Regions from separate parts of the Homo sapiens genome. Here region 1 is linked to region 2. The links come from fine-mapping of genetic effects on gene expression. A gene starts in region 2. The other region holds a variant in brackets. All regions are shown on one strand. Distances are between the middles of the regions.

Evidence for each region.
Region 1: its variant is fine-mapped to the expression of MAP2K6 in whole blood (TOPMed, PIP above 0.99).

Annotation. Positions count from the first base shown.
Region 1 is chr17:69,499,834-69,505,063 of GRCh38, reverse strand. All of the region lies in intron 1 of MAP2K6 (mitogen-activated protein kinase kinase 6), which reads right to left. Among named protein-coding and RNA genes, the nearest start is that of MAP2K6-AS1, 17 kb to the right of the region's middle. RefSeq lists enhancers at 922-981, 1,052-1,101. The variant T/C (reference allele first, on the strand shown) is at 2,872.
Region 2 is chr17:69,412,711-69,417,940 of GRCh38, reverse strand. MAP2K6 (mitogen-activated protein kinase kinase 6) reads right to left here and starts at 3,244. Exons shown (of 12, transcript NM_002758.4): 1 at 2,941-3,244. The coding sequence starts at 2,956.

The DNA of each region.
Region 1 (5,230 bases), 87 kb before region 2:
GGGTGGTCACCCTTATCTTAGTAACCCACTATTTTCTAAATCGATCTGTTAACTACTACAAAGTTAGCAATGGAAGTAGAATAAAAAATGCTTTTCCACTGTTCTGCCCTCCCCTTTTCCCAACCACCTGCTGTAATTTGAAAAACTTAAGAGAGGGATAGAGTAATACTTATTTACATTTTCCCTGTTCCAGAAAGGATTAAGATAACAGATGAGCTTATGCAAGGAAGTTATAACTTCTTCTTGGGCCAAATGGAAAGGTAACTTGATGTTGATCACACCTGGGCTGAAATTACAAGAGAATTTGGCTCGAATACTTTTGTTGATGAGTAAAAAAGAACAGACTGAGAAATGCCAGCTCAGGAAGCAGAACAGAGCAAACAAGGGCCTGGGGTTTTCCTCATGCATGGAGATCCTGTGTCTCTTTGCACTTGGCAGGGGAAACCAAGGGAGAGCTGCATAGAATGGCTGGAAAGAATGCTACCTTCTGCCCAGGCGCGGTGGCTCATGCCTGTAGTCCCAGCACTTTGGGAGGCCGAGACGGGCGAATCACGAGGTCAGGAGATGGAGACCATCCTGGCCGACACGGTGAAATCCTGTCTCTACTAAAAATACAATAAATTAGCCGGGCATGGTGGCAGGCACCTGTAGTCCCAGCTACAGGGGAGGCTGAGGCAGGAGAATGGCGTGAACCTGGGAGGCGGAGCTTGCAGTGAGCTGAGATCACACCACTGCACTCCAGCCTGGGCGACAGTGCAAGACTCTGTCTCAAAAAAAAAAAGAAAAAAAAAGAATCCTACCTCCTTTCCCACCTCTTCTCTACATTGCAGATGAGCACTCAGAGATAACACAAGCCCTGGATATGGCCCTGGATAGATCCTGAAGCTGCAAAGAAACTTAAACCAATTAAAATAACCTCCTTGCAGAAAAATAACATCCAAAGACTTCAGTGACTTGCTCCACATCACAGAGGTCAGCAATGACCCAGTCAGAATCAGAATCCAGGTCTCCTGACACCCAGGTGGGAGTTCTTTCTACTATCCTGCAATAGAAGACGTTTAGAGATGACTGGAGAGGGGGCAGGTGAGACGTACCCGGGATTTTGAGTTTTAAAATACCCAGCTGACATCTGGTTCTTCCACGCATCACGCAACTTCTAGAATCACTTTTCATCTGACTCTCAGTTTTCTCAATTGTAAAATGAGGAAGTAACAACCATACTCACCTCACTGGACTGATATGAGAATCAAAGCAGATAACATATATGAAAAAACATTAAGATACCTTAAGTAGCTGTTAATTAGATTCATTTAGGGAAACAATCAGTACTGTCTCATTTTTTTTAAAGTCATTTAAAAAATTAATGAAGAGAACTGGCCACATCATTATAGCCCACTATAATGTATAATGAAATTTTTCAATTCCTTCAGAATCCAAAATCAGATCAATTCTGCCAAGTTGTATATAGCCAGGAAAAAATATGCTTCGCAGTAATCAGCCTAGAGAAAGCCTTTTAGGACCACCTTCAGAATAAGAGGCTTTCTCAATTCTCTCCTCATTTGGGTTTACTTATGTATTTTATAAGGTTCAAAACTCACCATTCACTTTCCTGCTCTTGGAACTCAAACAGCTGTTAAGGATGTTACTAAATTAGTCAGTTATTGACATCGCATAGAGCTTTCCTATGTACCAGGAACTATGCTAGGTGCTGGACCCAGTTATGAGAATCCAAATAGATATATGGCCTAATTCCAACAATTCCCATCCATGCACCTCAGCCAAACAGACAGGGAATGTTACTTTCGATGAGATTCTTCAGTGAGGAATGAATGACGGATTCAACTTGTTTAGATAACTATACAGATAACTACATACAAATTCCAGTGCAGGTGACAGATAATTCAGGTAATCCCAAAAGGCGACCCTACAGTTCTCTCAACGAAAACAAAAACTAAAGTAACATATATTTTGCCTATGAAAACTGGTCTCCAGTTGTCATTTAAGCAAACCAAAAGCAGAAGTTACTCTTAAATTCCTACATCTTTCTCTTCTTTACCTCTAACTCAGTTCTTACAAGATAGATGTAAAGAGAAATAGCTATTTATTGAGAAAACCCCTTTGGAAAACTTTAATATAGCAAGTAATTAGTAGCAATTCTTAACAGCAATTAATTATTACACCATAACTTAAATCACCAAAACATCTATACAAAGAAACAGTAAAAAAGAGAGAAAGTTTTTAGCACAGAGACCAAAGGAATAAAAGACCAAAATAATAGTAAAGTCTTCCAAGTGGGAGGAGAAGGCCTTTGATTCTCTCCCCAGATCACTGTTACACCCAGCCACCCCCACAGCCCCCCACATCAACATCATTCTTACCCTGAATTTACTGCCTCCTAGTTGAAATTGCCAGCCTCCTGTCTCCAGACTCTAAACCCTTGACTATGTATATAAGTTGGACATCTGCATATCTTAAACCTAATATTTCCAAGTATATCAGCTCCTCAGAACAACAAGAAAAAAAAATAGATCCAGGAGACACAAAACCTAGTTGAATTACAGTGTTAGAAAATACTCTGCCTTCACGTTTACATCAAATAAAATACAAATCACAAGCACACACAGCAACACTCTGCAGTTCGCTTACTTGCCCATCTCTGACAGAGCAGCACAGTAAGAGACCAGCAGAGGCGACTCTGGTGAGGTTTTCGAGGCTGCAAGGAAGACCAGCAGAGGAAAACCTAACAGAAGTCATTCTTCACTTAGCTCCAAAGACCACACTTCGGCAAGGAGAAACAGAACTGAACAGACTCCACCCCCTCCTCAAGTTCGGATTGCAGCAAACCTCTGCAAGCTCATTGTTCCGAGGAAA[T/C]TGCAGCTTCAGGAAGGGAGAAGGGAAGTGGGTCTATGTGGACACCCAGGCGTGACATTAATCATTAACCAGACTTGGAGGAATAAATCTATAAATCTGGACAGTACCATGTTCTGCAGCTTTTCTATAAATGCCTCTTTGATTTCTTAAAAGAAAGAAAAACAATATGTGGTCAGTTTCCAGCTGTGTTTACTTCACAGCAATCTGTTCCCCCAGGAAGGCAGCCAACACCTGACGCTAACATTGAACACTGTTAAAAAAAAAAAAAAAAAAACATGGGAGGGAGCACTATGAATAATAAAGCTAAGTGGCCAACTATGTTCAACAGTCTTTGCCTTTGATATTCTAAAGCAAAGCAGAAAAAATGTCAGAAAAAAAAAAAGGCTTTCTATGATGTCATATGCTAGCAACAAGCCTTCTCGGAAACAGAGAATTCTGTAGATTTCTGCAGATCGCAACAAGCCTCGACTGCTTATTGGCACAGTCTGCAAAGGGTAAGCCTCGTCGGCCTGATTGGGCATATGCAGCACTATATTGCATCAGACCCTGTTACCCGCATGACTGTGTTCTCTGAAAATAGTGTAATCCCACCACACACATATATTTGCAAAATTCATCTGAAACCAAAGCAAAGCTGGGTCATTATAATCCTGGCCTGGAGCAAAATGGCACTGGAAAAAAAAATTTAAAAAGCCTTGCCAATAGTTAGAAAATATTTACCAGGCCACAGAAATGTTCGCTAGCTTTGACTGCACCGAAAATGATGGGGTACACGAGAGGTCTTGCACACACTCTGAGAGGGTAAGCACAAAGCACTCCTCTGATGTTCCTCATTACATAAAACAGAAGATTATGTTCCACTGCCAACCCAAACAGCATGAGAAGCCCACGCGGTCAACAGAAGGTGGCATCGTGAAGATATGCTGATGCCTAAATATTTGTTAGCTTGGCCGAGGGTTGGGGGCACGACTATGAGAGTTTATGATTATTGACACAGCTTCACAAAAGGATGGCAGTGTTTCCAGTGCCAAATTTATTTTAAAAATCTGTTTCCCAATATGAATGGGATTTCCAGCCAAGTAACTGGCAATCTAGAGGCCTTGGCTGCCCTCTCCTTACTACTTGCATCTAGGCTTACGTTCCAAGGGTAGTTGGCAATAAAACCAGCAGTGAAGTATCATTCAGTGTTATTAAATTGCAATCATCATATGCAAAGCAACGAACGAAGCAGGGCAGGGGAAGAGGCATGCAGGAAGAAAGCTGGCTTTGCAACAGCAATGTAAAAGTGAACAGGGACTCTGCCATCCTCCAATCTTCCAAAACCACTGGCTCTTATATACCACTGAGATTCCAAACACTGAAGACAAATCTCTCTGGAATTACAGAAAGTTTAGAGAAGAAAAGCTGAAAACCTCTTTTTTTTTTTCTTTTTTTTTTGAGATGGAATCTTGCTCTGTCACCCAGCCTGGAGTACAGTGGCACAATGTCAGCTCACTGCAACCTCCGCCTCCCGGCTTTGTGTGATTCTCCTGCCTCAGCCTCCTGAGTAGCTGGGATTACAGGTGCCCGCCATCACGCCCAACTAATTGTTGTATTTTTTAGTACAGATGGGGTTTCACCATGTTGGTCAGGCTGGTCTTGAACTCCTGACCTCGTGATCCACCTGCCTCAGCCTCCCAAAGTGCTGGGATTATAGGCGTGAGCCACCATGGCCGGCCTTTTTTTTTTTTTTTTTTTTTTTTTTTGAGACAGAGTCTCACTTTGTCACCCAGGCTGGAGTGCAGTGGTCCTATCTAGGCTCACCGAAACCTCTGCTTCCCACGTTCAAGCAATTCTCATGGCCCTCAGCCTCCCGAGTAGCTGCGACTGGGAATACAGGCACGTGCCACCCCACCCGCCTAATTTTTGTATTTTTAGTAGAGATGGGGTTTCGCCATGTTGACCAGGCTAATCTCAAACTTCTGACCTCAGGTTATCCGCCCGCCTTAGCCTCCCAAAGTGCTGTTACTGGGATTACAGGTGTGAGCCACTGTGCCCAGCTGAAAAGCTCATTTTAAAACCTGCAGTCAGTTTGATTTCAGAGTCAGAATGAATCTCCTAAGACCTTACCTTTGCTCATACTGTTCCTTCTACCTGGAGGGCTCTAGCTGTCTTGCAGACAAGAACTCAACCTTCCAAATTCAAAACCTCCCTCATAGAACCTTCCCAGAGCTTCCTGAACACAATCTAAGGATTACTATCCACACATTCCTGCTTTCACATTCTGGCACCTTACACTCAGCCTGCAACACAATATGAGCTCAAAGCAGCTTCCCTGAAACTTTGATATTTTAGTTGAAAAATGTCCACTCTCTCTACA
Region 2 (5,230 bases):
ATTGCTCTCTAAAACTAAAATAAACTAATATTTTTTAAAGGTGAATAGGAGGAGAAGTGAGAAAAGTGTATTTTAACAGGGTCAAACTTTTTGTGTATTTTCAGGTGAACTGGGGGATGCCAGATCTCCCTACCTCCCTCTTTCTCTCCCTCCCTCCGGAGATCATTATGGCTGATAACAATAGTTTTTCTCTCCCGGGTAGTGTAGATGACACATTTTTCCTGTAGCTTGTCTTCCTGTAGTGTGCAGGAATTCCTGCACTTTCTGGGTGCCCTTCCTGTTAACTTACATTTCAGATTTCCTCAAAAGGCATTCTACTGCTTTAATATTTGAAAAATGTCAACTCAACCCCAGACAGCTAATATAAACAAGCTGAAAAGCATACCACCTAAAGTTACAACTGTGGAAAACAAAATTTCTTTTTAAGAAATTCTTTCTCGGAATCTCACTGTTGGTAAGGCTGTAGAGCAGTAACCCAGTCCTTCCAGCTTCCAGAGAGTCTGTAATTCCTTTGCCTCTGCTGTGCCTTAAATTAGAGGTCTGTTAAACCGAATTATAGTGATCTAGAAAGTTCGTAAAGGTCCTTGAATTGAACATATTGTTAAATTCTTCAATACTATGAGATTGTATCCACTTTTCACTTTTCCTCCCATTTCTTGGGTTAGAATATTAAAAAAGAAGTTTGGTACTGCAAAAAGTATTTTGGCCATTTGAGAATAGCGTAGCTGAATAAGGCCAATTCCACATTTAAAGTCCAGGCCAAGGCGGCTGGCTCTTTTGCCATTTCTAAAATGATCACCCACTTCTTTCTACCAATAATTTTCCTTTCGGACAAGAACCCCATGTTCATTCCAGATGTACTTTCCAAGCAGAATCCAATTAAGAAAACTCATCTGGGTAAATGGGAATTGATTTGAAGGACCACCAGTACCTGATCCATTGTAAACACATCCATAGGGAAGAGTGCAGTGCTAATATCTCCTTTGGCTTCTCAACTCAAAAACTGGCTCTACTAAGAGGGAGCCACGTTCATAGTGAGCCCAAAAATATGCAAAAAGGAGCCTGATTTAGTTTAGACCCTAAAGTCCAAAGATAAGATCACAGTAAACACCACCCTCTTCATAAACCTTCCTGACTATCCCCCAAATAGATAAATCACTTCCATTTTTAAACTCCAATAGCACCATTTCTCTTCAATACCTGTCCTATTATCTTGTATTATAATGATTTCCTTACATTCTTGTTTTCACCAACCCGAAGGAAAAACTTCATTTTAAATATTTTTGTGTGTCCCTAAATCATGTGCACACATACACACACAATACATACATATACATGCATATATATACACACATACATATGTATATACATGCATATCACAATATATTACACATATATTAAACTGAATTGAATGAATGAGCGAATGTTTACCAAATACAAAGTAACTAAATGCCATCTCTTTAATACATCAAAGCATGGACTGCCTCTTCTGAACTATTATTTCTCTACTCAATAAGGAGATTTTTAGGTTTTCCCCACTTGAGGAACATCTCCACCTGATATGTCAATTCCTAGGTTCTTCAGCACTCTTAACTTTTCAGATTTCCATTCTCCCCTAATACTCAAAGAAAAGCAGAGTGCTACTTTGAATGCTTGAGATTACTACTTCCTTCTTGGGCTGCTGAGATATATGACTCCCATCAGGTAGAATTAAAAAGCGGTGCAACAACTCCCCACACTCCCTCCCAAAAAAGTAGCAAAAAGCTTGTTAGACCCTTTAATTTCACCATGTCTTACTCAAAGAGTGCCCCGGGTAGCCTAATTCAATAGTATCTAACACCTCTCTTCATCATCCCATACTTCTCATATGGCATATGCTTTCTCTATGGTAAAGAAACAATTGTTCTGAAACAAGTGACTTGGGGTCCCAGGGGCACCTGACAGCACCTAGTCTGCTCTTTGATGTCATATCAGGAATTTTTTAAATCCCCTTCCCAGGGTGACATTAAGCCTGCAAAATACAACTGTGTTTAAAAACAAAAATTAAGAAAAGAAAATAAAAGAACATAAAGAAAACAACCATAACGTGAACTTCCAACCTATTACAGCTGACTAAATACACGCAGTTACACACTTAAAATATTTCATTATGCTTGTCAATGAAACAGTGCAGTCCCTTCACACTACTGTAATGCTTAAAAGTACAGTTTTACCCCCAATATTTTCCCCCAAGATGCAAAGCATCCCCCAAATGGGCAGACATAAAACATTAGGTCTTCACTGCTGCTTCTAAATTTTGCGAGCCAATAAGCAATTGGTGTAAAGTGCAAAATCTCAGAAGAGCAAGACTCGTCTGCTTTTTTGTGATATGCTGTTATTCACCCTTCACCTTTACTTCCTTTAAAAATCAAAAGTTACCTAATGTTCAAGGCGATATCAATGGAAATTTAGCTAAATACTGGCACCGCAACGGTCTATTTCCCCCAAAGAATATAAGATTACATTAATTTCCTAGTAGTTTAACTCAAGTTTTACCTTTCATCTTCACCTATAGAGTTTTTAAAAGTTTCTATTCCTGTTGCATACAAAATTACTTACAATATCTGTGCATAGTAAAGAATTTTACAATTATATAAAGCCTTGCACATTTAGACGCTACCAACCTGCTCTGTCTCTCCTGACTGTGCAAAAGGCAAAAAGAGCTCAGTAATCCTAGCAGAAGAATGCAAATAACGTCAATGCACAGCTGAACTGCAAGCCCTGCCTTACAGGAACTCTCTGTGTCTGCAAAAAAAGACACATACTAAACAGGAAATGCAACTGAGCTGTGGAAAACCTCAAACTTAAAAATGCACTCGCCAGGCGAAAATTGCATCCATGCATTCATAAATGCATGCACAACCCTTTGCATTTTTGCAACTAATGCAAACAGCCTCTTACCTTTCGACTGAGACATTTTCCCCTTTCCTTTGATGGGGGAGGGGAGCACAAAAGACTTTGCCTTGCTTCTCTTCTGTAGCTAGTTTTGCAACAAAGATGCAAGCTGCAGGCGTGCAATCTTCATGCAAGTGGAGTTTCTCTTGACCGATGCAGCAGATGGACTTTCAGGGAATCAAGATGGAAATGCACACCTTGCAAAACAGACTGGAAAGTGATTTTTCCCCCAGTTGCAACGTTAGGGAAGGCTGTGCTGCAGCTACATGATGGGCCAGGGCTGGCAGCTAAAAGCTCCAAACTTGGAACTGAGTATCTTAGTGCGCAGACGTCCTTCCTGCGAAGGGCGCGAAGGCCGCTGGGTAATGTAGTTCTCCGGCGGAGTCCACGGGGCTCTGATTTAAGGAAACGTGGTCGCCCCGGTCGCTGAGCGAGATAACTGGGTGCGACAAAGATTGCGTCCAGATAAACAAGTCAGACACACACTCAGTAGAGTGATGGGTGAAAAGCGGCAAGGCCAAGACGGGGCGGCAGTTTTGTTCTCGAAAAGCCTCTGAAACAACAGCTAAAGAATATTAGGTTAGCTAAAGAGCTTTTGGCTTGTCGAGAAGGTCTGTTTGGGAGTTTAGTGTGTTGATTTTGCAGCTCAGCACCTGTTGTGCTGTTCTTGCCTGTAGACGTTTTACCCTCACACCTCCGTTTTTTGTTTGTTTGGGGGTTTTTTTGTTGTTGTTGTTGTTGTTTTTTTCCCGAGAGGGAGTCTCGCTCTGTCGCCCAGGCTGGAGTGCAGTGGCGCGATCTCTGCTCACTGCAACCTCCGCCTCCCGGGTTCAAGCAATTCTCCTGCCTTAGCCTCCCAAGTAGCTGGGATTACAGGTATGCGCCACCACGCCCGGCTAATTTTTAGTAGAGACGGGGTGTCAACATTTAGCCAGGCTGGTCTCGAACTCCTGACCTTATGATCCGCCCACCTCGGCCTCCCAAAGTGCTGGGATTACAGGCGTGAGCCACCGCGCCCGGCCACACCTCCATTTTTAAAAACATTTTTTCTAGTAAGAAAAATGTATGGATGATTGGGTTGGCTGGAGGTAAGGTTACCTTTGCTCTGTGGAGAAGATGCAAAGTTTTATTTTGTCAGAAACAATCCAGGTCAGTTATTTCCAAGGAACCCGAAACTCAGTAGGGGGTAGGTGTGGGGAAGAAGATTGGAGGCTTCTCATTTCTCACAGGGTTACAGAGGAAGTTCTGCTTTTTATACATCAACGCTAACTTTATCAAAATTAAGGTATCTAGATGATTTTTTCTCACCTGGGAGGAGAGTCCCTGGCCTAGGGGGAAAGTGGGTGGAAAATGAATACAGTCGAATATCTTGAATTTATTCATTAAAATTAAAAGATACTTGTTGAGTGTCCAGGATGTGCCAGGCGCCTTTCTAGGGCCCTGGGATGTTCATTCATTCTGTACCGCTCACACATAGTGGGTACACAGCACCCTGATGGAGAACGGCATCACCTTTTTCACAAGGAAGCCAGAGATGCTTAGCACAATTCACTGCAAGGAATGGAGAGGAGTGAGCAGGGCATGGGCAAAAATGAGCTCGGACTTATACTTCATGGAGCAGACAGACTCAGAAATGTTCTTTTAAGACAGAGGGAGGAATTGAGGAATTCAAGGAGGTGTGGACAAAGCACTGTGGCAGAAATAAGGACAACCTTACTCAGAAGCTGCCAAGGAGACCTTGTTGCCTTGTGTGCAGGAGTGGTGAGGGCGGGGGAGATTTACAGGTGAGGACTCCACAGGGCCTTAAAAGGTGGGCTAGAGGTTTGGACTTTATTCTGCAGGTACTTGCGGGGAGGTGAAAGGGTCTTGCAAAGGGGCGTAACTTAATCCAAGCATTGTTTTAAGAAAGTAAATTTGCCCTCAGCAATCAAGGTGGGTTGGAACTGGGAGAGGCTAGAGATAGGTTAGGTCAGTAGTGAAAGGCAAAAAGAGGCACTTTGAAAGAAGATTCAGCTAGATTTGATGATTACTAATGAAAACTATTGGAATTGTATTTAGGATGCTGGAAGCCAGGACCATCTGCATAAGGGATGCATTAGAGGGAAGGAAGCCGTCTTATTTCAGCTGCAAACCAGCAAATCAAATCTTAAATATGCAATAGGTTGTGAGACTAACATTAATTTACTTAAGTTGGTCCCCTTTACTGACATTCTTGACAATTAGTGAAGGCAATCTAATCTCCATATTAGCTTCTGCCCCTAAGAGGAAGGCATTGCTGGTCTGTGAACACAGGTGC